Homo sapiens: one gene and its partners. The protein of the gene in region 1 interacts with the protein of each later gene in a biochemical or structural test. Each region holds a gene or a part of one and is shown in the gene's direction. Other genes may lie near its edges. The genes, in order: FOXP3, NLK and KAT8.

Region 1 (5,180 bases):
AAATTAGCCAGGCGTGGTGGCAGGTGTCTGTAGTCCCAACTACTTGGGAGGCTGAGGCAGAGAATTGCTTGAACCTGGGAGGCGGAGTTTGCAGTGAGCTGAGATCATACCACTGCACTCCAGCCTAGGCGACAGATCAAGACTCCGTCTCAAGAAAAAAAAAAAAAAAAAACCCTCTGACTCTAAGATCCCCAAACACTGTGATCCTGAGTTGTTAAAGCAAATGCAAATAGCCAGACTTGCCAGATGCAGGCTGTGTGCCAGCAGGACCAGCTATGTAACCTGCAGGGCCCCTTGTTCAGATTTCAAGATGGCGACCACAGAGCATTAAACAAAGCACAGGGTGCCACATAACCACATAGGTCACACGCCCATGAAGCCAGCCCTGGAGGCCAGGCACTGTTTCTGAGCGCTTTGCTGGTGGTAATTTATTTCTCATGATGCGAATGTACAGATGAGGAATATTGAGGCCAGGGGGGTTTAGGTGACTTTCCCAAGGTCACAGTTGGGTGGTAAAGAGCCCTATTCAACCCCAGTTCATGGTCCCAGCATCAGTGGCCACATACGACATCCGCACCTGTGCTCTAATAAATACGGCTCATGCTGTTTTGTGGGATTCCACCTCAGACTGGAATTTAGAAGAGGGCGTCCTTGCTTTGAAAAACACTGATTTAAAAATAAAGTGGAGCCAGGCGCAGTGGCTCATGCCTGTAATCCCAGCACTTTGGGAGGCTGAAGCGGGTGGATCACATGAGGTCAGGAGTTCGAGACCAGCCTGGCTAACATGGTGAAACCCCATCTCTACCAAAAATACAAAAATTAGCTGGGCGTAGTGACGGGCACCTGTAGTCCCAGCTACTCGGGAGGCTGAGGCAGAAGACTTGCTTGAATCTGGGAGGTGGGGGTTGCAGTGAGCCGAGATTGCACCACTGCACTCCAGCCTGGGCGACAGAGCAAGACTCAGTATCAAAAAAAATAAAAAACATAAAATAGAAAGTAAAAAGTGGGAAGTTTAAGCCTCTGGGTCACCAGCCTCTCCCCCTCACCCAGGCATCATCCGACAAGGGCTCCTGCTGCATCGTAGCTGCTGGCAGCCAAGGCCCTGTCGTCCCAGCCTGGTCTGGCCCCCGGGAGGCCCCTGACAGCCTGTTTGCTGTCCGGAGGCACCTGTGGGGTAGCCATGGAAACAGCACATTCCCAGGTAAGAATGGTCCTTGCACTACACGGTGCCCCCAAGCTCCTAATCCTGACAGGCTCTGGGTGGAGGGTGCAAAGGAGCTCCATGCTGCCCCTTCCCACCACCACCACCACTGCAGCTGCCGCCACTCAGCCTTTGGGAAAATGCATCCGCTCACAAAAGCTTCCTTTCGGGATGTCCGTGGCCTGAAAGCCCCCCATATGGTCTCGAGTGTCGGGCCCCTAGCCCTGACTCCCTTGGGGATTGGGGCCATGCCTCACCCACTCTGGACTCCAGCTACTATATTCGGCCATCAGAAGGGAGGGACCCTGCTAAGTAATTCCAGGAGCACCTCCTTTCCTCCCCTGACCAAGGAAAATCGGGGTGGATTCGCCCGAGCTCACCTATCCACTGCTCTCCACCAGGCCTGGCCTGTGGGCTTAGCAGGGATCAGAGACCTTGACTGTCATCCTGGCTCTGCCATTTAACCTCTTGCATCCTTTGGTGTGCAAGTTACTCCGCTTCTTTTCAACCTCGGGGAGAACTATTTTGGCAGAAGTGGTGCAAAGAATAAATGATACAACTTATGTCAGGTGCTCAGCAAACAGTACCTGTGCCCGTGGACACGGGTGTTGACGGTGAGATCTCAGGCCTGTAGACTCACCTTGTAGGGGGAGGGGACAGGGAGCTAGCTAGGAGGTCCTGCATGGGGCTTGATTCATCCCCACCCTCTGACAGAGTTCCTCCACAACATGGACTACTTCAAGTTCCACAACATGCGACCCCCTTTCACCTACGCCACGCTCATCCGCTGGGTAAGCAGGGCAGCTCGGCCCCAAGGAGGAGGAAGACAAAGATGGGGTGGGGGACCTGCCTCCCAAACTCCTGTCTCCCTCTGAGTGCCCTCAGAGTGGGTTCCTCCATTCCCAAGCCCCAGCCCCAAGGATCCCCAAGCCGTGCCTCAAATGTGACCCCTCATGCTGGCTTCACCCCAAACCTGTCCGCAAATCCAAACCTAAACCACCATCCAGGCCAGAGCATGCCAAATTCTGACCCTAAACCTACCCCTTTCCAGATGTCCACCTCAGCCCCATACCTAACCCTCTCCTGGACCCATAAAATAGCCTAAAGCTAACCCCATCTCTGCACCTTGCCCTAAACGTACCCCAGCTCTTACTCTAACTCCTTCCCCAGCCTTTATGCCAACCCAACCCCATCTCCTTCCCTGGCCCCAACGTACCCCAGTATGTCAATACACCCCCAACTGGGCACCATTCCCAACCTTTCCTTGTAACACCCATTTGATCCTTAACTTCATCACCCCATCCCAACTCCTTCATCTCAGCCTCCCCAATGCCTTCTCAGAACCTTCATCCTAGCGCCACACCTAACCCCAAACCTGAACCTCACCCCTACATGATACCAGATATTCCCCGACTGTCTCTGAACTGAAACCCTGACCTAGCCCCATCCTGACTGATAGCCTCACTGCAATCATCATCGCTGACTCTGTAATCCCATTCCTGAATCCAAACTGATCAAATTCCCTGACCCTCAGCCTCACTCCACACCGAACCCCACAACTAACCTCATCCTTGCCCTGAGCCTAACCACCTAACCATGTCCCTGACACGTAAGATACTCGATAATTCAAACCATCTCTGGCTTCTGACCTAAAGCCAAGTCATCCCATCCCTCACCCCTAGACCCCCCACCTGAGTCCACCCCAGCCTGACTCTTAACCCACCCCTTCCCTGACCCTTAAGTTGGCCTGGCCCTTTACCCCTTCCAAATCCTTGACCCCACTTCTGACCCTTCACCTTCCCCAACCCTGAAATGTCACCTCCACAGAGAACCCCAACTCCAACTCCATCCCAGACCTTTCACCTCACTTCAGCCCTAGCCCTGAACAAGACCCCACTCCCAACCTCAGTCCTGATCCCTTACCTAATCCCAGAACAACCATACCCACACCCATCTAACCCTGCCCAACCCGACACTTCACCCCTTTTCTAACCCCATCTTTGACCCCATGCTTCACCCCACATCTAGTCCTGTCCCTGATTACCTGCCCCTACAATTCCGCCCCCATGTCAGATGGCTCGGGGTAGGTCATAGCCCCTCTAAACCCCAAGTTTGGGGAATGTGCCCCTTACCCCACCCCCCAACTTCCAGGCCATCCTGGAGGCTCCAGAGAAGCAGCGGACACTCAATGAGATCTACCACTGGTTCACACGCATGTTTGCCTTCTTCAGAAACCATCCTGCCACCTGGAAGGTGAGCTCCTCTGAGGTGGCGGTGACTGGGATGGCCTCAAGTGCCATCGCAGCTCAAAGTGGGCAGGCCTGGGTCTGGGCTCATAGGCACATTGGGGAGGAACGGGATGTGGGTTGTTGGTGGTGGCTGCTGGCCTCAGAGGTTGACGCCCACCTGCTCCCTGTCCCCGGCCTTCCACAGAACGCCATCCGCCACAACCTGAGTCTGCACAAGTGCTTTGTGCGGGTGGAGAGCGAGAAGGGGGCTGTGTGGACCGTGGATGAGCTGGAGTTCCGCAAGAAACGGAGCCAGAGGCCCAGCAGGTGTTCCAACCCTACACCTGGCCCCTGACCTCAAGATCAAGGAAAGGAGGATGGACGAACAGGGGCCAAACTGGTGGGAGGCAGAGGTGGTGGGGGCAGGGATGATAGGCCCTGGATGTGCCCACAGGGACCAAGAAGTGAGGTTTCCACTGTCTTGCCTGCCAGGGCCCCTGTTCCCCCGCTGGCAGCCACCCCCTCCCCCATCATATCCTTTGCCCCAAGGCTGCTCAGAGGGGCCCCGGTCCTGGCCCCAGCCCCCACCTCCGCCCCAGACACACCCCCCAGTCGAGCCCTGCAGCCAAACAGAGCCTTCACAACCAGCCACACAGAGCCTGCCTCAGCTGCTCGCACAGATTACTTCAGGGCTGGAAAAGTCACACAGACACACAAAATGTCACAATCCTGTCCCTCACTCAACACAAACCCCAAAACACAGAGAGCCTGCCTCAGTACACTCAAACAACCTCAAAGCTGCATCATCACACAATCACACACAAGCACAGCCCTGACAACCCACACACCCCAAGGCACGCACCCACAGCCAGCCTCAGGGCCCACAGGGGCACTGTCAACACAGGGGTGTGCCCAGAGGCCTACACAGAAGCAGCGTCAGTACCCTCAGGATCTGAGGTCCCAACACGTGCTCGCTCACACACACGGCCTGTTAGAATTCACCTGTGTATCTCACGCATATGCACACGCACAGCCCCCCAGTGGGTCTCTTGAGTCCCGTGCAGACACACACAGCCACACACACTGCCTTGCCAAAAATACCCCGTGTCTCCCCTGCCACTCACCTCACTCCCATTCCCTGAGCCCTGATCCATGCCTCAGCTTAGACTGCAGAGGAACTACTCATTTATTTGGGATCCAAGGCCCCCAACCCACAGTACCGTCCCCAATAAACTGCAGCCGAGCTCCCCACATGCTGGACTATCACCCCATATAAGGGTTGCGGTCAGTGGGCAGGGGTCTGGGTCCAAGGCCGCAGCAGGAGGAACTGGACAGCGGAGGAAGTAGCTAGGGCATGTGCTTGGCCACTGCCTCCAGCACCCCAAATCCCTGCCTGAGGCTGGGGAGAGACCTCTGCCGGCGGCTCCTCAGGCCTCCCGGACCCGGCCTAGGAGGCCAGCGTTCTCCTGGCGGAGGGCTCGGTAGTCCTCCCGGATCTTCTCCAGGTTGCTGAGGGTCTTCTTGCCCAGCTCTGTCTCGATCTGAGGCAATGTGAACACATGCCCCCTCAGCACACACAGCCCCTTTCCCAGCTCCTGCTCACCAGCCCCCATCACAGCCACTCTGGGCCCCTCCCACCAACTCCAACAGCCTGCTCTGTCCCATGGCCAGGCCTCGTGTGGTGTTCCCTCTACCCAAAGCATCCTTCGCCATGTGGCAGGATTCCCCCTACATCTTTAAGCTGAAGCCTC
Region 2 (11,538 bases), on another chromosome or scaffold:
CACCCTCAACACCATCTTCATCCGGGGTCGGCTGCCGCTGTACACCCTGTACAGCAGCACACCTCTTCGGCAGCTGCGGCAGCCGCAGCAGCGGCTGCAGCTGCAGCCATGTTAAACCCTGGGCAACAACAGCCATATTTCCCATCACCGGCACCGGGGCAGGCTCCTGGACCAGCTGCAGCAGCCCCAGCTCAGGTACAGGCTGCCGCAGCTGCTACAGTTAAGGCGCACCATCATCAGCACTCGCATCATCCACAGCAGCAGCTGGATATTGAGCCGGATAGACCTATTGGATATGGAGCCTTTGGTGTTGTCTGGTGAGTATCCAAAGAAAAACACAACCTCTCATGGTTTCTTCTGTTGGTTGTCATTGGATGAGTCCATCTCTAATGGTTGTCTCCATGTTGACCAAGGTGCAGCAAGCTTCTCAACCCAACTGTAGGAAGCCACCCTCACTTATGTGGTAAAGAGGCCTAATGCATTGGCTGTCTAGGCTCATGGCAAGTTTTGGTGGAGCGCCTTCTCATGAGCAACACACATAAGTGTGCTGTCTACCAAACTTTTCTATTAGAACCTAAGCAAGCCACTGAACACAGGATCAGTAGATGAATGTATGCAATACTAATTCCTACGAAGACCTTGGTCATCTCGTGTGTTTGATTCAGTGGCCCTGTGGCATTAAGTGTTAGCACCTGATCCAGACTGAATTCCTTTATAATACTCTTGTCATTAGGATATACTTTGCATAACTACTTTCCTGTCCTTTCTGTCTTTTCACTTATTTTGTGATCTTGATCTCCAGAAGAAAGATAGGATTCATAGTTGAACCAGTTAAGATCATTGCTTGAGTGGTTTATTTTAAACCATAAAGCTACAGTTGAGAAGTATGTAGCTGTAGCCTTTTGATAAGAATGCATTAAATATAGCATCACACATGAGTACCACAAATGAGGTTAGTAGACTAGCTATGCAGTGGCCCACATTCAGTGTAATGTTTTAGTGTCATTTAGTGCCTCTTAAGTTGCTGTTATCTGTTGGTCAGTTGCTGTAGTAGGAAATAATACTTTTTTAACAAATGACCCTACCTTTGCTAGTGCTAGGATATTTGTAAAAGCCTAAGGGCTTCTTAAATATAACATTTTGGTCTATTTGGTCTAACCTTAGAAAGATTAGTAGTTTATAATAAAATATGTTTGTTCCTATCAAAACTAGAATGAACTGGGTTTTCTCCCAAGGACTAATGATTCCACTTTGGATAGATGAATTGATATTTTCAGTGCATTCAAAAATTGTTACTCCCGAGAAAAGCGCCCATTACCACAGGAAAATGAACTCTTTGGAACTAGCCCGGTAAATATCTCCTTTCGTCATTGTTTTTGAGGCTAAAATTGATGGGTGCATTGTTTATGCATTTTAACTGGCCATCTTATTTATATTTCAGATTTGATAATCTAGGCTGCTAAGTGATCTCATCCATTTTTTAAAAAAACTAGTAGAGTCCAGTGTTTTCTCAGCTAGTCCCCAAGGAAGTTTCTGCTGCAGCGTGGTCCTTTCTTCAAGGTGTGTGGGATTCAAGGTGGAAAAGAGTATAGCTGGTAATGGTGCCTTGGTCATTCTGCTCAGGGACCTGCCTGTTCCTGCCTTCCTCTCTTCCCTTCCACAGACTATCTCAGAGATTTAACTGTGAACTTATCCTTGCCTAACTCTTGAGGATTTCCAAGCTTTGGTTGGGGGATGGAACAGACAGGAAAACGGTTGTTCCTTGGTTTAAATTTTGTCATTGATTTACTAATAACTTTTAGCACTTGTTTGGATCTTCTTAGATCTGGATGCTTACTTTCTTTTTTAGTGCCTTACATACAATGCTAAAAACTAGGGATACTGAAAGGGAAATGGGTTGCAGCATTCTTGAATATATTCAAAAGGCATTTTTCACTTACATTTCTATCAAAAAGTGATGTGACTTGTAGCAGTTTTTATTTTATTTATTTATTTTTTTAAGGAAGGGGGCAATAAAGAACTGGAGTGCTGAAACATCTCACACAGCAAACGTTCTGCTAGTGGGTACTATGAATCTTTGATATCTGAAAGCCCACATATATTTGGTTTGAAGCCATTCTAGAGGTTTTTAATTGATTGACTGCTCTACCACCTATGGAGTTTGTCTCATGTACTTAAAGTACACCTCTGTGCACCATCTTACTTCAGGTTTGTCTTGTGTCACTGACTACATTCGTAAGCCCCTTGAGGGTAAGGATTGTCTACTGTAGTAATCCTTTTCTCCTCAGCGCCTAGCACAGTGCTTTGGCATCTTTGCTGCTTGGTTAATTGATCTAGTCAGGTCCTTCTTTGTTTTGGCTTAAACAACAGAAAATTATTTCTCACAGTTCTGGAGGCTAGAAATCCAATATCAAGGTACAGGTTTGGTTTCTTTTGAGGCCCCTCTGCTTGGCTTGTGGATGGCCGTCCTCCTGTGTTATCACGTGATTCGGGTCTTTGTTTTTTTAACCAAGTTTTTCTAGTTAACTGCATTGAGTGTTTTCATCAGCTGTTACAGGTGAAATACAATTTGGTATGAAAAAGGAAAGAGTTCCAGGTGTATGTTTTAGTATGCAAATGCTTTTCTATTTTTATATTTACATGTCAATGACTTGCTGTCTGAATTCCTTATTATATTTGAAATTTAACTGTTGTATGACCTAAGTAAGACTGTTTAGAGATTTGAAAACCAAACTACCGGGAATTGCACTAATATTCTGAAACCCAAGGTAAAGATATTAGTGAGGTTTTTTACTTTTTAACTGAAACAGAATGTATCTTTTTAATTTAGGAAGCACCTTATGAATTGGAAACAACTTTTTTCTAAAATGATTATAATGGAACATAAAAATGTTCTCCCAGTGATGCATCCTTTGATTGAAACCGCCATGTAACTAACTACCGGGGTATTATAAGATTCACTTAATTCAAACATATATTCATTTAATGCACTTTGCAAGTATTCTTCTGGAATAGCATATGACAAGAAACTGTATTTGCCCACATTTCCTTGGGGACATACACCCAGGGGTACTAACTGATGGCTAAAAAAGTGGCATGCAATTTTGAGAGAGATTGTTGTTTCTCCATGTAGACAAGGAGAGATATTTGTAGAAGTGATGCAGCATTTTACCAGATTTATCACTGAACAATTTAGTCTAGCTGACTTGATTTATCTTTCTGTTGAATTTAACTAGTGGAATAACTTATCAGTATTGGACAGTTGTGTAAAAGTAGTGAATTACTCATTAGCTTGCTGGTAAGGATGGTGCTGTGACAGTTCAATTAAGGTTTCATTAACAACTGTCTGCTGTATTTTATCTCAAAGTAAGAGTTCCAGTTTACCTGGTAATGTGATTGTGGGATAACCTGAGATAACATTTGTTGCCACTGATAGAATGTTGTTTATGGGTTATCAAGATATCATATACAATTTGACCTTCTTTTTGAGACATTACAGCCTCCAAACACCCACATGGACATTTTCATAATGCAAAAACAAAACACAAAGCAACCCACAAATAGTAACTTCAGTCATTTGGTGAGTAATATAAATCTACCTTTTTGTCTGCAGTTCACATTTGCCAGAGGAAAATGCTGTGGTTAAAGATGTAACAACTTTGGGACAAAGAGTTTCAGGGGCTCATAATTTTGAGAGATGGAGGAAGTTGACCGCATGAGAGTGGTTTGAGGATCGCTGTGCCTAGACCGTTTTTGACATTGGCAACTTAACATATCAGAGATGGAATTAATGGCACATATTGCCACCTTGGTAAAAGTGAGTCTGGGAAAAGACTTTTTTATAAAATTAGCATTTTGGTTTGTGACTTGCCTGATTAATTAAAAGATCAAAAATCCTGGGATTCACTTGCTCTGTTGCCTTTGTGTACTCCAAGTAATGTTGGAGGTCTTTGAATTTTATTATTCTAATAACTTCAGCAGGTTACTTTTATCTGTCTTTCAAAACTGTAGTGATAGTTACTAGCTCTGTGATCTCGATAAATTATTTGACTTCTCTGTTCCTCATCTATAAAATGGGGATAATAATAGTACTTATCTCAGGATTGATGTGAAGATTAAGTGAGGTAATTCTTGTAAACCAATGATTACACTGTCTAGCACACAGTAAGCATCAATAAATGTTAGTTGTTTTTATTGTAGTTATTGTTGGTAGAAAAATCAAGCTGTTGTGTTAATGTGCATGGAAGTGTCTTCATAGATTGTCAGATTTATCAGGTGAAATCAGCATGCAGACTATTTTTGGAGGCATGACTCTAAATAACGTAGCGTGTCCCCTCAGTTGTACTGTATGTCAGGGAGATTTGAAAATGGTTGAATTTAAAGCCAAGGGGAAAATACTCTGTGCTGTCCTGTCAACTAATTAAAAACAAATAAAAATAATACACATTTGTATGGACTTTGTAGGTGTTTTAGTCAGATCATCTGCACTGTTTTAGAAAGTATTATGGATTTATATACTGGGAAATTAATTTTTTCTTTTCAGAATGTAACAAATGAAAGACATCCTTATTGTCGAAGTAGAGATTCACTTTGCTTATGTTTGGATGAAAAAGTGTGAATTGCTAAAGATCCCAGTGAGGTGGGAGAAATATAGTGATTTAACAAAAAAATTACTCAGTATAAGCCCTTGTGCATGGTAGAGATTGTCTAGCTTGCTCATCTTGTGAACATGAGAGGCATCTTTTTTTCTTATGTTTTGTCTGGTCCTCTTACTCCACATAACAAACTAATTTGGAAAAATGCAGAATGCTTTTGGGATATGTTTGGGGAAAATCCTGGAGTAAGTTGCATCAGAAAGAGTAGTATACTAAAGGGTATTTTGTTATTAACTGTGTTTTACAGGTTGAGAATCTGTAGTACTGAGAAGTTTCTCCACTATCAGCCGAGATTAACAGCCACAGCTGGATTCTTTGGGGGCTCTGCTTTGTGAAAAGAGCTTTGAAGAAGCAGAGCCTGCACCATAAAAAGGAAACGGTTGCTCTTCTAGACATAACAAAGCATCCGTATGAAACTAGAAATGTGGAAATCTGTATTGTTAATTTTAACTACAAACGAACTTACTTTTGGAAATTACAGGTTCATGATCATAAAGTAGATAAAGAGTAGAGAATAAAAGTAACAATCTGATGATTCTGCACCCACTTCTTGGTGGTTGAAACTCCATAGCCTATAACGTTGCAAGTCATTTTGTACTTAGACTCCTGAAAAGATTATCCAAATTATGTTCAAAAAACCACAGCACAAAAAATAAACTTGTTTTATTCTTGGGGAGAAATTTCATGTTATACTGTCCAATATTAATTTAGAAAAAAAGACAGTTTTTTTTTTTAAGGCATTTCAGAAACATTGCCCTTTCAAGCAAGTTAGAACAATATCCCTCAACATTAAATACCATCTTTTTAGCCATCAGTACCACTGGGCATGTGTCATAAAAGAGAAATGGGGGCAGATATAGCTCCCTTTCATATGCTATACCAGAACAAAAATTTGTAAAATGCATAAGTGCATTAACTGAATATGTTTGAATTTAAATTCTGGGTTTTTACCTTCAAAGCACAGGCAGCTGTAGATACAAAAAGTCCTCTAATGGAGTACTGGAATGTTTCATTGTCTTCACAACTTGGAGTGTCAGAGTTTTCTCTGCCTTCTATATTGTAAAACTGAGTGACTATTCTTGGTCGTTTTTATTAGATTTATTGATGTCCAAGCAATACAAGAATTAACTGTTCATATACTGTATGTTTCCTTAACATGCTTATTTGGTTTCTTTGATGGAGATTGTCAAGGCCAAAGAAACTTTTTCATTTGTCATCCAACCAATAAATGGACAGAAGCTGTTAGAAGCTCTTTAATTATGCGTCTCTTTGGGTTTTAATTCTGAGTCCCTGTGCCTCTGTGCTACTCCAGTGAATTATTTGTTGATTGGGCCATCTAATACAGGTCAACAATAACTAAAATAGCTTGTCAGTGTGATCCTGATATTGCTTGGAAGTAACAGAGTGTCTGAGGCAACAGTTGTAACACTGTCAGTGAGCACATAACAAGTCATGATAGACATAGTCAGTAGTTGTAAGGTACCTAGTGCAGAAACAGAAAAAACTGGTACTCTGGCATTATGGAAAGATGACTTCTAAGTGAACTCTACTGAGATTGAACTTTAACTCTTAGTTGTAATGGTGTGAGTAGAGGGAGTATATATGGGGATGTCTGCCACTCATAATGATTGGTGCTCTTTACCTAAACCCAGTTTTGAAATAATTTGGCTAATTGAGTCATATCTACTATGAGGCAGTGAAAGTTTTTAACACCTTTGGAACTCACTAGTCTATATATTTTTATTGTCACTTCGCTGTGGACCAGCACTTTTGCAAGCACCAAATGGGGATATTTAGTCTTATAAATAATTTTGCGAACCTCTATTAAGCTGCTGCTGCTGTTGTCTGTATTGTGCTTAGTACTGAGGTATAGGGATGTTTAAGTCACCATATTGCTTTGGAGGAGTTGACAGTCAAGTAAACAATATGAACAATGAAACATGCCTACTCTCAGGGTGTCCTCAGCCTTGGTGGAGAGGTGAAACTAAATTTGAAACCATTAAATAAAAACTTAAGAATATATTATTTTCAGGCCAGGCATGGTGTCTCACGCCTGTAATCCCAGCACTTTGGGAGGCCGAGGAGCGGTTCACCTGAGGTCAGGAGTTCAAGACCCTCCTGACCAACATGGTGAAATCCCGTCTCTACTAAAAATGCAAAATTAGCTAGGTGTGGTGGCACATGCCTATAATCCCAGCTACTTGGGAGGCTGAGGCAGGATAATCACTTGAACGCAGGAGGCAGAGGTTGCAGTGAGCCAAGATCGTGCCGTTTCACTCCAGCCTGGACAACAAGAGTGAAACTGTGTCTCAAAAAATATATATATTATTTTCACTTGTTCTTACAATATTCAATTATTGTATGTTACTATTTGCCAGGCACTGTGCTGGAGATAAGGATTAAAGGTGATTATGACCTACTGGGTGAAATAGATTTGTAAATGGATTATTATAATTCATTGCCATAAATGCAGCAATAGAGATAGTCCCTGGACATTAAGGGCGTGTAGAGGAGGGATTTCTATGGAAGGTCAGGATGCTTCCTAAAATAGGTAATTCTTCAATGAGTTTTAAGAATGAGAGTCAACCAATGGGGAAGGGCAGTCTAGGTGGAAGGGCCTATATGCAGGAGACTACAGGGCTGGAGATGCTGAATGTGCAGTGCAGTGGGTGGTAGGAAGTGTAAGCTAGAGCTCAATCATGAAGAGGTTGGAATGTCATGCTTGAGGCACTAAAAACAGCTTTTTATTAATAAAGCATATGTGGACATATAGCACATAAACAGTTAAATAGCATATCTGTGGTATTAAGATTTTACGAGGGGATGATTAGGAAAATAGCCTAAAAAGGCTCCGTAGGCGGGCAATGATGAGAAAAGGTTAAAACTGCGAATGGCAACTACTGAAAGTTTTTAAGTAAGAGAGACTTCGTCAGATTTAATTTTTTTTTTTGGATATGTAAAATAGAAGAGTAGAGAGAACTGAGATCTGTCTGAGTCTTAGGGAATGTTCTCAGTTGTAGGTGGAAGAAGCTACTGGAAGCAGAACTAAAGGGCAGTTAGGAAAATGTGTTCACAATGATTGACAATCTAAGTATGGCAGAAGATTGTTAGGAAAATGGGAGTGATCTTTGGTGCTGATAAAAAGTCAAAGAAGGCCGGCCATGGTGGTTCACACCTGTAAACCCAGCACTTTGGGTAGCTGAGGTGGGCATATCACTTCAGCCCAAGAGTTCGAGACCAGCCTGGACAACATAGTGAAATCTCATCTCCACTAAAAGTACAGAAAAAAAAAATTAGCCTGGTGTGGTGGCACGCACCTGTAGTCCCAGCTACTCAGGAGTCTGAGGTTGCAGTGAGCTGATATCACACCACTGCACTCCAGCCCGGGCGACAGAGTCAGAACCTGTCTCAAAAAAAAAAAAAAAAAAGTCAGAAAATTAAGATGGAGAAAAGGCCAAAAGGCCATTGTATTTAGCCTGATAGTAAATAGATCATTGATGGCATTTGAGAGAGTGATTGTGTTTGATTGATTCTAAAGAATGTCTTAAGTATTCAGTATTACTTTTTACAATTTTTTAAAATTATTAATACAATTCTTCCAAATCTCATTTGTTTGTTTGTTTGTTTGTTTGTTTGTTTTTAGTTTAATAAACCAGAGAACTTGATGTTCAAGGTGCCATTTCCTTGGGAAGGATTTTTTTTTTTTTTTGAGACAGAGTCTTCCGCTGTCACCAGGCTGGAGTGCAGTGGCATGATCTTGGCTCATGCAGCCTCCACCTCCCAGGTTCAAGGGATTCTCCTGCCTCAGCCTCCCGAGTAGCTGGGATTACAGGCACGTGGCACCACACCCGCCTAATTTTTGTATTTTTAGTAGAGACGGGGTTTCACCATGTTGGCCAGGATGGTCTCGATCTCTTGACCTCGTGATCGGCCTGCCTCGGCCTCCCAAAGTGCTGGGATTACAGTTGTGAGCCACTGCGCCCGGCTTTTTTTTTTTTTTTAAACAATGGGGTAATAGATTACTAAACTAAACTTGTTAGGAGACAAGGTTCTGGTCCTAGCCTTGCTGCCAACAACCCTGTGACCTTGGTAAAGTTATTTAAACTTTCTGAGCCTTGGTTTTCTCATTTATAAAATCCTGTGTTTCCTAAGATTCTATTATAAAATGATATTAATATTTGTTGGAGTTTGCTGGTGACCACAAGACAACTTTCTCTCTTCAGGACTACAGTGTTGAATAGCTTCTAAAATTGTTTAAAGGAGGAATGAGATAAATGTCACCCTGTTCCAGAGTGGTGACTTTTATAGAGTTTTCTAATTTGGGATTAGATTTTAAATGTTCATTTTTTTTTCATCAAGAGACTTGTTTTCTTCTATTACTGAGTTATTGGTAAGGATTATACATGTAGTTCAGCTGTGGAGAAGAGCAGGCCTGTTTGCAAATGAGCAATTTCTTCTACATGTCCATTTGATACTACTATTTTCCTGATAATATTTACCTTTTTAGTGTTTTAGACTTTAAAAACTTGCTTAGTTTCTTATAAGTCTTACAATAGTTTTCTTACAATATTTTGAGTGATTTTTAAATTTTTAAATAAAATTTAATGTTCAGTATTTTGTCATCTTTTGTGTGTGAGTAATCAGGTAAGATGATTTGGGAGCCAGTGCTTACATTAATTTGCAAGTTTCTTTAAAACAAATTTCTTTCCAGGAGTCTCTTTTAAATTCTGAATTTGGATAAGAGAGTTACTAGTTTGCATGTGGGCCTCCCAGAAAATGAGCTTTGACACAGCTTTCAGGCTGTAGTAGTTTAGGGCTTACAGTGCCCAAAGAGGGAGAGTGACTTCCTAAAGCTCTTGTCCAAGAGGAAGGGAGCATTTTTGCAGACACCCTCAGCAAACCAGCAGTGCTATCCAGTAAATACATAGTGAAAGTATGCAATCTTAAATTTTCTAGTAGCCACAGTAAAAAACTGAAAAGAAACAGGTGACATTAATTTTAGTAATGTATTTTAACTCTATATCCAAAATATTGTCATTTCAACATGTATTCACTATAAAAATTATTAATGATCTATATTACTTTTTTTTCATACTGAGTCTGCAAAATCACTATGTATCTTCATGCTTAGAATATGTCTCAGTTTGGTCTAACCACATTTTAAGTGTTCTGTAGCCACACATGGCTACTGACCAGCACCAGCATATTGATCTCTGGTGTTTTTTTTTTTTTTTTTTTGAGACAGTCTTGCTCTGTCACCACACCTGGCTATTTTTTTTATTTTTTTGTGGAGATGGGGTCTCACTTTGTTGCCCAGGCTAGTCTCAAACTCCTGGGCTCAAGCAGTTTGCCCACCTTGACCTCCCAAAGTGCTGGGATTACAGGCCTGAGCCACCGCACCTGGCCTCTCTTTGGCTTTTGTTGGATTACATACTCATTTCTGAACCAGTCACTGTCAATGAAGGTAAGATTACTTTTGGAGCAATCAGATCCACTTCTGGACCTGGAGATGGAGTCAGTTTTAAATGGGAGGGATGAATACCAGCAGTAAATGCCAGGAATGCAGTCATTAATGACCAAGATACTGCATTTGTCTGACTTGTGTCAGACTCAGAAGAACTTGAGTGGGTATATTTATGGAACAAACTGGAATAATGATCTCTATAGAGAAGTCCTGTCTGTCCTGAGTTATTTGGAGGCATTTTTCCTTTTCTTTTCTGAAGCTTTGTTTGCCTAAAGTAGCAGAAGGTAAATTTGGTACCTGATCGTTGCCATGTTTGCTTTCCTTCCCAGTTAGAGCAGATATCTCCTATTGATTTCTCTTTTTATCCTCTCCGTATTGTGGTTTTGTTATCTGGATAAGGTTCTCAGTCTTGTTTTCAATTTAAGTAGTATAGAGCTCAGTAGTGTCAGGCAGCAGACTTCTTACAGGGGAATGGACAACACAGAAACTTTTTGTTTATCCATTCTTTGACCTAAAATTCTTGCTCTGAGCTACAGAAAAAAGGTGAAAAGAGACATTTGAACAAATAGATAAAATTAGTCATTTGACCCAGATTGCAGCTTTTCTTCCTGTCTGCATGGATAAAAATGATCCGTCAATTTACATAAGCAGGTGATTTTTCTTACATGCTAATTTTCTTAATGTACCATGGCAGAGAGTTGCAGATTTGCAAATTGTGTAAGTTAATTGAAATAAGCCAGGTGACTTTATTTCACTGTATTATCTTACCAGTACAAAAGTACCCAAAGGGTACAATTATCAGGTGATTGTCTCATTGCACATCTAAATTAACATGCAGCCTGGTGCAGAGGGTTTTTCCCCACTTTCTTCTCCACTTCCCTCTCTTTTCTAATTTTTTAAAATAGGAAACTTGATTTCTATATTTACTTCAATAGAGCTGGAAATTTAGTAATACAGATGCGGAGGAAATTTGAGCTTTATTAAAAGTAATCCAGAAGCTATAAAAATTGGCAAGTAATGTGGTTATTGTGCAGAAGAAGGGGCTTGGTTTGGGTTTGAATTGCCTCAGAGAATTATGTGAGCATCTTCAACCATGTTTAATTGATTGGCTTCCTCTGTGTTCATTTTCCCAGGTTCTGCAGGTTACAGTAATTGGGGTTATCCTGAAGTTAACTGGGTGTATACCATAGCCAGCGTTCAAAGTAAATATTGACAGGCATTCTTTTAAAAACACAAGCTAATTAATTATAACACTGTTTAAAACATTTTAATAAAATTGAAATTTTTGAAAGGTGCAACAGTTGGTTATAGGGATTCTTTGCAGAAGATTTATGAGGACAAATAATGTCGACCAACAAAGCACCTTTCTTTATTAAGACTTTCAATATTAAACTTAATAATTAATGTTACTTAATTTCT
Region 3 (11,538 bases), on another chromosome or scaffold:
TTGTAACATTATGTTGTAATTTTCTCTCTCTGTCTTCCTCCATCATACTGGGAACTTCTGGAGGGCAGCACTTCTTGTGATTCATCACTGTGTCCTCTGTACCCGGCAACAACACAGCATAGGGCCAGACACGTAGTGGTTGCCTTACTCATTTATTGAATGCTCTGCTAATTGTCAGGTGCGCTGCTAAAAATTTTGGAGGCATTAATTCACCTTCTAAGGTTGGTACTATTATCCCTTTTGTCTTTTTTTTTTTTTTTTTTTTTGAGACAGGATCTCGCTCTGTCACCCAGGTGGGATTGCCGTGGCACGATGACAGCTCACTGAAGCCTAGACCTTCTAGGCTCAAGTGATCCTCCCACCTCACCCTCTCAGAGTGTTGGGATTACTGGCATGAGCCACTGTGCCCAGCTGTTATCCCTTTTCACAGATGAAGAGACTGAGGCTCAGAAAGATGGAATAACTTGCTCAGTTACACATAGCTAGGAAGTAGGGAGCTGGAATTTTGTGTATTTTTTTTTGTTTGTTTGTTTGAGATGGAATCGCTCTCTGTTGCCAGGCTGGAGTGCAGTGGCGCCATCTTGGCTCACTGCGATCTCTGCCTCCCGGATTCAAGCGATTCTCCTGCCTCAACCTCCTGAGTAGCTGGGACTACAGTTGTGCGCCACCACACCCAGCTAATTTTTGTATTTTTAGTAGAGACGAAGTTTCACCATGTTGGCCAGGATGGTTTTGACCTCTTAACCTCGTGATTCACCCACCTCGGCCTCCCAAAGTGCTGGGATTACAGGCGTGAGCCACGATGCCCAGCCCTGGAATTATACATTAATGTAGGTTATCTTAATCCAGAGCCAGCACTCATGATCCCTGAACAAATGAACAACTGCGGGTATGTGGTAAAATGAGCATTGAATTTAGAGTCAGACTTAAATTCAGTTAAGTATTAGCTCTTACCACTTTTCAAATCTGTGACCCTAGGTAAGCCTCAGTTTTGTTCTGTTTTTTGGGGTTCTTTTTTTTGAGACAGAGTCTTGCTCTTGTCACCCAGGCCACAGTGCAGTGGTACAATCTCGGCTCACTGCAACCTCTGCCTCCCGGGTTCAAGCAATTCTCCTGCCTCAGCCTTGCCTCCCAGGTTCAAGCAATTTTCCTGCCTCAGCCTCCCGAGTAGTTGGGATTACAGGTGTGTGCCACCATGCCTGGCTTTTTTTTTTTTCGTCTTTTTGGTACAGATGGGGTTTTGCCATGTTGACCAGGCTGGTCTCAAACTCCTGGCCTCAAGTGATCTGCCCATCTCGGCCTCCAGAAGTACTGGGATTACAGGTGTGAGCCACACACCCAGCCAGTTATTTTCTCATTCGTAAAATGAGAATAACAGCCTCAACCTGATCCACCTCACAGTTGTGGCAGTGATTGAGTAGAATGGCAGAGGTGGACCAGTGAGGTTAGCTGATGTGTGGCCCTGAACTCTGGAAACTGCTTCTCAGTGTGCAGGATTCCTTTTGTTCCAGCCTTACCTTCCTGATGACCCTAGCCTTTTTCCATCACAGATTCTGCTGAAGTGATCCAGTCTCGAGTGAACGACCAGGAGGGCCGAGAGGAATTCTATGTACACTACGTGGGCTGTGAGTGGCTTGGCACATCTGGGCGTGGGTGCAGGGAGTTGGCTGCCCTGGCAGCACTCTTATGGCCCATACTTACAGTTAACCGGCGGCTGGACGAGTGGGTAGACAAGAACCGGCTGGCGCTGACCAAGACAGTGAAGGATGCTGTACAGAAGAACTCAGAGAAGTACCTGAGCGAGCTCGCAGAGCAGCCTGAGCGCAAGATCACTCGCAACCAAAAGCGCAAGCATGATGAGATCAACCATGTGCAGAAGGTCCGGATCCCTTCCCATCCACGGGCCCAGGAGGCCCAGCTTCTCTGCCAGTTCCCTTGGGTCTCTCGGGCCCCAGTGCCAAAACCATAGCAAATCCCATTTCTTAAGCTCCTGTAGTGTGTCAGGGACTTTACCTACTTCCTCTTACTTACTTTTCATAGGTAAGAAAACAGACAGAGGGTAAGGGCTTCGCTGCAGTCTCACAGCAAGGAAATGGCACAGCTGGGACTAGAACTCAGGCCTCCGGCACTGGTAGCCTCTTTTGTCTCCTAGTAGCTGTGTCTTAGTAGAAAAAATGACTTGAAGTTCAGTGGGAAAGACGAGAATGTTATTCGGCAGTTGCTATAGCCAAGCACCCTGCCAAGTGCTGTATATGTATAAGCTCCTCAAATCCTTCCCAACAATTCAACACACAGGAATAGTTACTTTTTTGGTAGGTGAGGAAGCAGGCTGAGAGAGATTAAGTAACATGCCCAAGGTCACACAGCCAGTAAAACGGTGGGCTGGAATTAGAATAATAATGCCAAACACTTGTTAGCCGGTGAGCAGAAGTATTCAGCTAAATGGTTTTTGTGTGTGTGTGTGTGTGTGTGTGTGTGTGTTTTGTTTTTTGTTTTTTTTTTTGAGACGGAGTCTTGCTCTGTCGCCCAGGTTGGAGTACAGTGGAATGATCTCGGCTCACTGTAAACTCCGCCACCTGGGTTCAAGCAATTTTCCTGTCTCAGCCTCCCAAGTAGCTAGGACTACAGGTACCTGCCACCACGCCCGGATAATTTTTGTATTTTTAGTAGAGACGAGGTTTCGCCATATTGGTCAGGCTGGTCTCGAACTCCTGACCTCAGGTGATCTGCCCACCTCGGCCTCCCAAAGTGCTGGGATTACAGGCGTGAGCTACTGCGCCCGGCCTAAGCTAAGTGTTTTAATACATGACCTCACTGACATTTCACAGTAGGCCTGTGAAGTAAGCATGCAGAAGAGCTACAGATAAGTTTAGGGACCCAGACAGGAATTTGATCAACCAGCTAAATTGTGCTACCTCAGAGCCAGAGGCCTTAGCAATGATTTTGGTTTTTTTCTTAAGAGACGGGAGTCTTGGTGTGTTGCTCAGGCTGGACTTGAACTCCTGGGCTCAAATGTTCTTCCTGCCTTAGCCTTCTAAGTAGCTGGGACTACAGGAGTGCATCCCTGTACCTGCCTTGGTTTTTTCTTGTATTGATACTTAATAATTGTACATATTATTGTTATTTTTTTTTTTTGAGACAGCGTCTTACTCTATCGTCTAGGCTGAGTGCAGTGGCACAATCATGGCTCACTTCAGCCTCAACCTCCTGGGCTCAAGCAATCCTCCTGCCTCAGCCTCCTGAGTAGCTGGGACCATAGGCACGTGCCACCATGCCCAGCTAATTTTTTATTTTTTTGTAGAGACGGGATCTGCTATGTTGCCCACACTAGTCTCAAACTCCTGGTCTCAAGCGATCCTCCTGCCTTAGCCTCCCAAAGTGCTGGGATTACAGGTGTGAGCCACTGCGCCCGACCAAGTCTCAGTTTCTAAATTTATAAAAATCAGGAGTGCACACCAGAGCAAGATTTGTCAAAGTCTCCAGACACCCAGACATTTGTTACTTTCAGCTATTGCAGCTTCATCCTTCTGAGTACATGAGTTAGTGGGCAAGCCCAACATTTAAATTTCTTTAAATGGAAGAAAGAAAGTGGATAAGATAGAAAAATCAGGGTGTTGCACTTTATTAAGTGTAGGTATTGTTTTGAGAAGCTTTTATTTCACACCCAATAAAAGTGTGCAGGATTCCTCTTGTTCCAGCCTTACCTTCCCGATGATCCTAGCACATACTTGTGTGTATATACAGACATGTTACAGTGCCAAGTGTACTTCCTACTGTGGTGTGATTTAAAAAATTGAAATACCCTAAACTGGAAGAACTCCTCAAGGTCTAAACTGCCGAATCGAACTTCCTATTGTAATGGAAATGTTCTATAGCTGTACTATCTAGTACCGTAGCCACTAGCCACATGTAGCTGTTGAGCACTTGAAATGTGTCTAGTGTGACGAAGAATTAAGAATTTTAGCTGGGCGCGGTGGCTTACGCCTGTAATCCCAGCACTTTGGGAGGCCAAGGTGGGTGGATCACCAGGTCAGAAGATCGAGACCATCCCGGCTAACATGGTGAAACCCCATCTCTACTGAAAAATACAAAATAATTAGCCGGGCGTGGTGGCGTGCACCTGTAGTCCCAGCTACTCGGGAGGCTGAGGTAGGAGAATGGCGTGAACCCGGGAGGTGGAGCTTGTAGTGAGCCGAGATCCTGGGCTCACTCCAGCCTGGGTGACAGAGTGAGACTCCGTCTCAAAAAAAAAAAAATTTTTAAATTATGGGTGCAGTGGCTCACGCCTGTAATCCCAACACTTTGGGAGGCGGAGGTGGGTGGATCACTTAAGGTCAGGGGATTGAGACCAGCCTGGCCAACATGGCCAAAACCCCATCTCTACTAAAAATACAAAAATTAGCCGGGCGTGGTGGTGCACACCTGTAATCCCGGCTACTTAGGAGGCTGAGGCAGGAGAATCGCTTGAGCCCAGGAGATGGAGGTTGCAGTCAGCCAAGATCATGCCACTGCACTCCATCCAGCCTGGGTGTCCGATCAAGACTGTCTCAAAAAAAAATTAATTATCATTTTTTAAAAAAATTTTATTTTTATTTTTTCGAGACAGAGTCTCACTCTGTTAACCAGGCTGGAGTGCAGTGGTGCGATCTCAGCTCACTGCAACCTCCGCCTCCCAGATTCAAGTGAGTTTCCTGCCGCAGCCTCCCAAGTAGCTGGGACTACAGGCACGCACCATCATGCCTGGCTAATTTTTGTATTTTTAGTAGAGATAGGGTTTCACTATGTTTGGCCTCAAACTCCTGACCTCAACTGATCCGCCTGCCTCGGCCTCCCAAAGTGCTGGGATTACAGGTGTGAGCCACCGTGCCCAGCCAAAATTTTCATTTTTTGAGACAGAGTCTCACTCTGTCACCTAGGCGGGAGTACAGTGGCGAGCTCTTGGGTTACTGCAACCTCCGCCTTCCTGGCTTAAGCAATTTTTGTGCCTCAGCCTCCCAAGTATCTGAGATTACAGGCGTGTGCCACCACACCCAGCTATTTTTTATTTTTTATTTTTAGTAGAGATGGGGTTTCGCCATGTTGGCCAGACTGGTCTGGAACTCCTGGCCTCAAGTGGTCCTCCCACCTCGGCCTCTCAAAGTGCTGGGATTACAGGCGTGAGCCACCACGTTTAGCTGAGTATAATTTTAAATAGCCCTATGTGACAAGTGGCTACTTTATTGGACAGTGTAGATCTAAGATTAATTCCTCAACTGTTTTGCACTCAACAAAGACATACCTCTGAGTTGGCAACCAGCAGGGTGGATAACGGGCCAGTGGTGATAAAATCAAAGAATAGGTAATGAAACAATCATCCAGTTAACAATCAGCAAGGTTCTTCAGAGCCTAATTAATGTTTAATTCTAAATAAATTGCAACAATTAAGAAAAGTAGTGTTTTTGTAGTTCTTTATTGCATTTGCAGAAGAGTACTGTATTTTGTGAGAATTGGGAAATGTGTTTTAAAGAGATGTGTGAGGAGGAAAATCTTTCTTCCTCATCTTTACAGTGGTTAGGTTCAGAATTGGACAGACCAGGGGCCCATGCCCAACTCTGCTGAGTACCAGTTCTGTGACCTTGGGCAAGTGACCTCACCTCTTTGTGCCTCAGTTTTCTCTCATACAACAGGGACAATGAGCACTCTTATTTCAAAGGCTCATTGTGAGGAACAAAATGAAATAATGTCGGCTGGGTGCAGTGGCTCATGCCTGTAATCCCAGCACTCTGGGAAGCTGAGATGATTGGATCATTTGAGGTCAGGAGTTCGAGATCAGCCTGGCCAATATGGTGAAAGCCCGTCTCTACTAAAAATACAAAAAGAGGCCAGGCGCAGGCAGACCACGAGGTCAGGAGTTGGAGGCCAGCATGGCCAACATGGTGAAACCCTGTCTTTACTAAAGATACAAAAAATTAGCTGGGTGTGATGGTGCACACCTGTAATCCCAGCTACTTGGGAGGCTGGGGCAGGAGAATCGCTTGAACCCAGGAGGCGAGGTTGCAGTGACGTGAGATTTTGCCATTGCACTCCAGCCTGGGCGACAGGGCGAGGCTCCATTTCAAAAAAAAAAAAAAAAAAAAGGCTATGGCTCATGCCTGTAATCCCAGCACTTTGAGAGGCCAAGGTGGGTGGATCATCTGAAGGTCAGAAGTTCAAGACCAGCCTGGCCAACATGGTGAAACCCCATCTCTACCAAAAATACAAAAAATTAGCCGGGCTTGCTGGTGGGCGCCTGTAATCCCAGCTGCTTGGGACACTGAGGTGGGAAGATCGCTTGAACTCAGGAGGTGGAGGTTGTAGTGAGCCAAGATTGCACCATTGCTCCAGCCTGGGCAACAAGAGCAAAATTTCATCTCAAAAAACAAAATAAATTAGCTGGGAATGGTAGCAGGCACATGTAGTCTCAGCCACTTGGGAGGCTGACGTAGGAGAATCACTTAAGCCCAGAAGGCAGAGGTTGTGGTGAGCTGAGATCTCCCCACTGCACTCCAGCCTGGGCGACAGAGTGAGAGTCTATCTCAGAAGAAAAAAAAAAAAACATGTCTGTGCCGTGCTTGCCACTTGGAATAAATGGCAGCTCACTAGTCCCCGAGGGTAAGGGACCTCACCTTGCCCTGCCTGTTTACTACTCTGTAAAATTGAAATAACGCAGCTGGGTGCAGTGGCTCACGCCTGTAATCTCAGCACTTTGGGAGTGCGAGGCTGGTTGATCACCTGAGGTCAGGAGTTTGAGAACAGCCTGGCCAACATGGCGAAACTCCATTGCTACTAAACATACAAAAATTACCTGGATGTGGCGGCATGTGCCTGTAGTCCCAGCTACTTGGGAGGCTGAGGCAGGAGAATTGCTTGAACCTGGGAGGCGGAGGTTGCAGTGAGCCGAGATGGTGCCACTGTACTCCAGCCTGAGCAACAGAGTGAGACTCCGTCTCAAAAAAAAAAAAAAAAAAAAAAGAAATAACACTCTATGTAAGGGTTACTGAAAGGATTAAATGAGGCCATATAAACATATAGGCACAGTGCTTTGTGGAGGGGGTTCTGGGTAAAGCACTGGCTCCTTCCTCCCTTCTCAGCTACAGGGCAGGGCCTTGTCTGCCCTGGTGTAGGTCATGGACCGTCTTGGGTCCCCCTTCCATTGTCAGGCTGTACTGGGTTCCTCCCACAGGGTCTGGCCTAGGAGCAGGATGTGTTGTGAGTGTGGTGTGACTCTTAGTCTCTGCTTTCTAAGGACTTGAAAAATAGAGGAACCCAGGTGGGCATACTTGGACAGTGTTGCCCTGTTGACCACTTCTCGCTGAACTTGGGAAGGAGGGAATGTTTTCTGGATGGGAAGAATCCAGTCAGGCCTCCTGGAGGGGGTGGTAAGAATCTCAAGCCTTGAAGGATGGGAAAGAGCACAATAACAACAGTGACAAAGGATAGATCACAAAGCATCATGGACTCACCTGACTCATGCTCCGTGCCAGGCTGAGGAAGTGTTTTCTGCTGGCAGTGAGAGAAGGAAGGGCATTCTCCAGGTAGAAGGAGCTGTTTGTGCAGAAGCATGAAGGCCGCTAAAAGGGGGCTGCTGATAGCAATGAGGAGGCTGGGGCTGGAGGCAGGGAGTCTGAGGCGGCCTAGTAAATTGTCCAGACCTGAGATGGGGCCATGACTACCTGGAGCAGGACAGAGAGGAGAATTCCAGAGAGGGCCCAATTCCAGAGATGTCAGAAGTAGACTCGACATCCACTGTATTAGGACTTGGCCAGGCCGAGGGAGAGAGAGTAGTCTGAGGCAAGCCTAGTTATGGGTCTTGGACACTGGGACCAAGGGTGATGTTCCCAGTAAAATGAGCAACCCAGGAGGAGGCGCAGGTTTGCAGGGAGGAGTGATGAGGTCCTTTCTGCACATCTTGAGTCCGCTGTCCCTGTGGGAGGGACCTCTGGGGCAGTCGCATGGGCAGGCAGGGTCTGGTCCTCAGGAAAGGGGTCCAGGAACATCGGGGAGGTAGTAACAGTTCTTACGCTGGGCCTGGAAGGCAAATCTGTTATTTCATTTGAGTCTCACAACTTTGGCAGAGCTGGATTGCCCCCCATCGTGCAGCTGAAGCCCCATCCTGATCCTAACCCTGTTCATCTGGCAAAAGGTCCAAACTTGGACATCAGGGATGTCTGGGATATCGGGGGTGGGGCGGGTGGGTGTGAGAGGAGTCTGGACCAGCCAGCTTCAGAACCAAGTCAGATAGGTTAGCTATTGGTGTGGTTATTATTGCCATCCAGGAATGAGGTCTGGTAGACGGCAGGGAAGCCTTGTGGGTCCTGACGGGAGGGACAGCCTGGTCACCACTTCTGTTCACCTCTGCCCACTTTTCTTTCCTGGCCCAGACTTATGCAGAGATGGACCCCACCACAGCAGCCTTGGAGAAGGAGCATGAGGCGGTAAGTGGGGCTGGGAAGCTGCCTGCAGGTCCCCCGTCTCCCCTTGCCGAGGAGCCCCTGCTGAGCCGTGCACTGTGCCTCACTCCCACCCTGCCTGCAGATCACCAAGGTGAAGTATGTGGACAAGATCCACATCGGGAACTACGAAATTGATGCCTGGTATTTCTCACCATTCCCCGAAGACTATGGGAAACAGCCCAAGCTCTGGCTCTGCGAGTACTGCCTCAAGTACATGAAATATGAGAAGAGCTACCGCTTCCACTTGGTGAGGCTGGGCCGGCCGGGCCGAGCTGGGCAGGGGCCCGGTGAGAGGCAGAGGCAGGCATGGAGACTGAGGGCGGCTGCGCCGGCAGCTCCAGGGAGGAGACAGGCCCAAAGGAGCGAGTACAGGGAAGAGCTGCTGGGGGTCAGGAGGCCTGGATTCCAGGCCTGGCTTTGCTGTTGCTGGCAGGGTGACCTTGCCAACTTCAGACCTCAGCTCCTCTTCTCTGGAATGGGGACAGTAACTCACCCCCTTCAGGTCTTTTGCCAAGGCCAGCTCCATCCCAGGAAGCACACATAGCCCCTGGCAGTGGGACCTTAAGTGTGGATGAAATTGGGGGCTGTCAGGAAGGGGCGCTCTCATCACTGACACAGTGGGCTGCTTCCCGAAGTGTGGAATCTGAAGCGAATAGGTGTGGTTTAGGGAAGCCATTGTCATGGACGGGTCCCTCCAGAGCCAGGCCCACAGAGACTCAAAACCCCACCGTGCTGTGTGATGTTTGGATCTCTGTGCCTGGGCCTTGGTCTGTAAAAGCAGGATCACTTTCCTAAGGCTGCTGGGAGGATTACTCGATGTAGGTGAAGTGTTGAGGGGGGAAACAGAGAGGCAGAGACTTGCTCCAAAGCATGCAGTGGTGGGTTGGGTGCCTCCTAGCAGAGAACATATGGGCAGCGAACCTGTTCTCTTGTCCCCGACCAGGGTCAGTGCCAGTGGCGGCAGCCCCCCGGGAAAGAGATCTACCGCAAGAGCAACATCTCCGTGTACGAAGTTGATGGCAAAGACCATAAGGTGAGTGGGTGGCCAGGGGTTGGGAGAGGCCGGGGAGGCCCTGGGCACCTCCCAGATGATCCTCATCACCACCAAAGGGGAGGGGGCAGCCTTAGCTGAGCCTCTATGGGCAGAATGCCTCTGAGGGGCCGGGCACTGCAGCTCACACCTGTAATCCTAGCACTTTTGGAGGCTGAGGTGGGCAGATTGCCTGAGCTCAGGAGTTTGAGAGCAGCCTGGGTAACATGACGAAACTCCTCGACTAAAAATACAAAAAATTAGCTGGCGTGGTGGTGCGCACCTGTAATCCCAGCTACTCGGGAGGCTGAGGCACAAGAATTGCTTGAACCTGGGAGGCAGAGGTTGCAGTGAGCTGAGATTGTGCCACTGTACTCCAGCCTGGTCGTCAGATTGAGAATCTGTCTCAAAAAAAAAAAAGAAGGCCTCTGAGGGCCTCCTAGCCTGGCACTAGGCCTGTAGTTGGTGCATAGGAAACACAGGGCCTTGTGGTGGCCCCAAGACTCTTCTGCTGGTGGGGTTAGGTTCAAACTTGGGTTGTTCTGGAACCCAGAGGAGATTTTCTTGCCTGAGGCTGCTTTTAGAAGTGCTCTCTCCTTCCGTTGGAAAGAAAGGTGTTTGTTTTTGCCTGGGAGGGGACTGCTTTGTGTGAAATTTCCTCCTGAGAGAGCTCTGTGGCTTTCAAGGTTTGAGTTCCTTGTTCCTGGCCCCGAATGACTTCAGCAGGGCAGGTTGGGGCCTTTGGGACCTGCCTAGCTGTTGTAGAGAACTTGGCCTTTGCCTTATCAGTCTGGGAGGGTCTGGCCAAGTGTACTGGTTTCCCGCAGATGGGCCATACAGCACAGGACAGAGAGGGCAGGCTTCAGGGTGGCTCATGTTGCCTTGTCACTTCCTCACTGACCACAGACAAGTTACTTAACATGGTTTGTTCCTGTTTCCTTGTCCATAAGACGGGAGTCATAATATTTAATATTTACCTAGTTGTGTTGTTAGTGGAATAAATGAGACAGCAAATGTCAAGTGTTTAGTGCAGTGCTTAGCACTAGTATGTGCTTAATAAACACGGGCCTTGTTATTATCGGTGACCTCTTGGGGCTTGATTAGCCTTGGACTCGGAGAATACGCAGGCTGAGCCCAGCCCTTGCCCCTGCTCTGCCTTCCTGAGCATGGCTGTGTGGAATAGCAGAAGGGCCCCCGCTGGAGATGTGGGGGTGCTTTCCAACTGCGCTCTGCCAGCTTTGAGGCTCTGGGCAAGCACTTCCACTCTGGGAGCTTCAGCTTCCTCCTGAGTAAGATGGGCCTGGCAGTGCTGGGCTCGCACAGCTGCCGGGTTGGATGAGAGAGTGGCTGTGGTGTCATAAACCAGGGAGCCCCTTAGTGTGTGCCGTGAAGCCAAACTCGGTCCCATTGTCCCCCTCCTGGAGTGCAGCCAAGTGGACAGACAGGGCTCGAGGTTCCTCCATTCAGCAGACGTTTACCAGGCACCCAGCTTCATACTTAGACTCGTGCTAGGCGCTGGGGACACAGCCATGAACAGGACGGTCTAAATTCCTGCCTCGGAGCCTCAGTTTCACGAGCTGAAACAGAGTTAATGTCTGTGAAGACTGAAGCAGATCCTGCATGGAAGGCACCCAGCTCGTATTTGGCACTCAGAAGGGGTGGCCGGGCTTCATCCAGCTCCACTGGCACCTCCGAAGTGCTGTTGCTCTCTCATTTCCAGTTCCCTGTTCGTCAGAGGCTGACCGAAGACTCCTTCCAGTGTGAAATCCTTCTGGCCTGGCGAGGCGCCCACTTCGCGTGGGCTGGTGCCGGCCGCTGGAACCAGCTGGGTGGGGCCTGTGCCTGCCCCCTGAGCCTGTCTCCCCCCTCCTCAACCCTAGATTTACTGTCAGAACCTGTGTCTGCTGGCCAAGCTTTTCCTGGACCATAAGACACTGTACTTTGACGTGGAGCCGTTCGTCTTTTACATCCTGACTGAGGTGGACCGGCAGGGGGCCCACATTGTTGGCTACTTCTCCAAGGTGCTGGGTCTGGAAA

Evidence for each region.
Region 2: of the proteins of FOXP3 (region 1) and NLK, one has a biochemical effect on the other in vitro, tested with the Homo sapiens proteins (one study listed by BioGRID).
Region 3: the proteins of FOXP3 (region 1) and KAT8 form a complex in vitro, tested with the Homo sapiens proteins (one study listed by BioGRID).

What each region holds. Positions count from the first base shown.
Region 1 is NC_000023.11:49,249,938-49,255,117, reverse strand, and holds the end of FOXP3 (forkhead box protein P3), read left to right. Parts: intron 1-1,050; coding exon 1,051-1,201; intron 1,202-1,915; coding exon 1,916-1,992; intron 1,993-3,352; coding exon 3,353-3,454; intron 3,455-3,634; coding exon 3,635-3,784; 3' UTR 3,785-4,680; downstream 4,681-5,180. Other genes in the region: CCDC22 (coiled-coil domain-containing protein 22), read right to left, coding at 4,857-4,970. UniProt on the Homo sapiens protein: Transcriptional regulator which is crucial for the development and inhibitory function of regulatory T-cells (Treg).
Region 2 is NC_000017.11:28,043,015-28,054,552, forward strand, and holds part of NLK (serine/threonine-protein kinase NLK), read left to right. Parts: coding exon 1-317; intron 318-323; exon of another isoform or gene 324-3,817; intron 3,818-4,902; exon of another isoform or gene 4,903-5,912; intron 5,913-11,538. UniProt on the Homo sapiens protein: Serine/threonine-protein kinase that regulates a number of transcription factors with key roles in cell fate determination. Positive effector of the non-canonical Wnt signaling pathway, acting downstream of WNT5A, MAP3K7/TAK1 and HIPK2.
Region 3 is NC_000016.10:31,118,636-31,130,173, forward strand, and holds part of KAT8 (histone acetyltransferase KAT8), read left to right. Parts: exon of another isoform or gene 1-221; intron 222-1,550; coding exon 1,551-1,625; intron 1,626-1,703; coding exon 1,704-1,879; intron 1,880-8,399; coding exon 8,400-8,453; intron 8,454-8,553; coding exon 8,554-8,718; intron 8,719-9,414; coding exon 9,415-9,504; intron 9,505-11,381; coding exon 11,382-11,522; intron 11,523-11,538.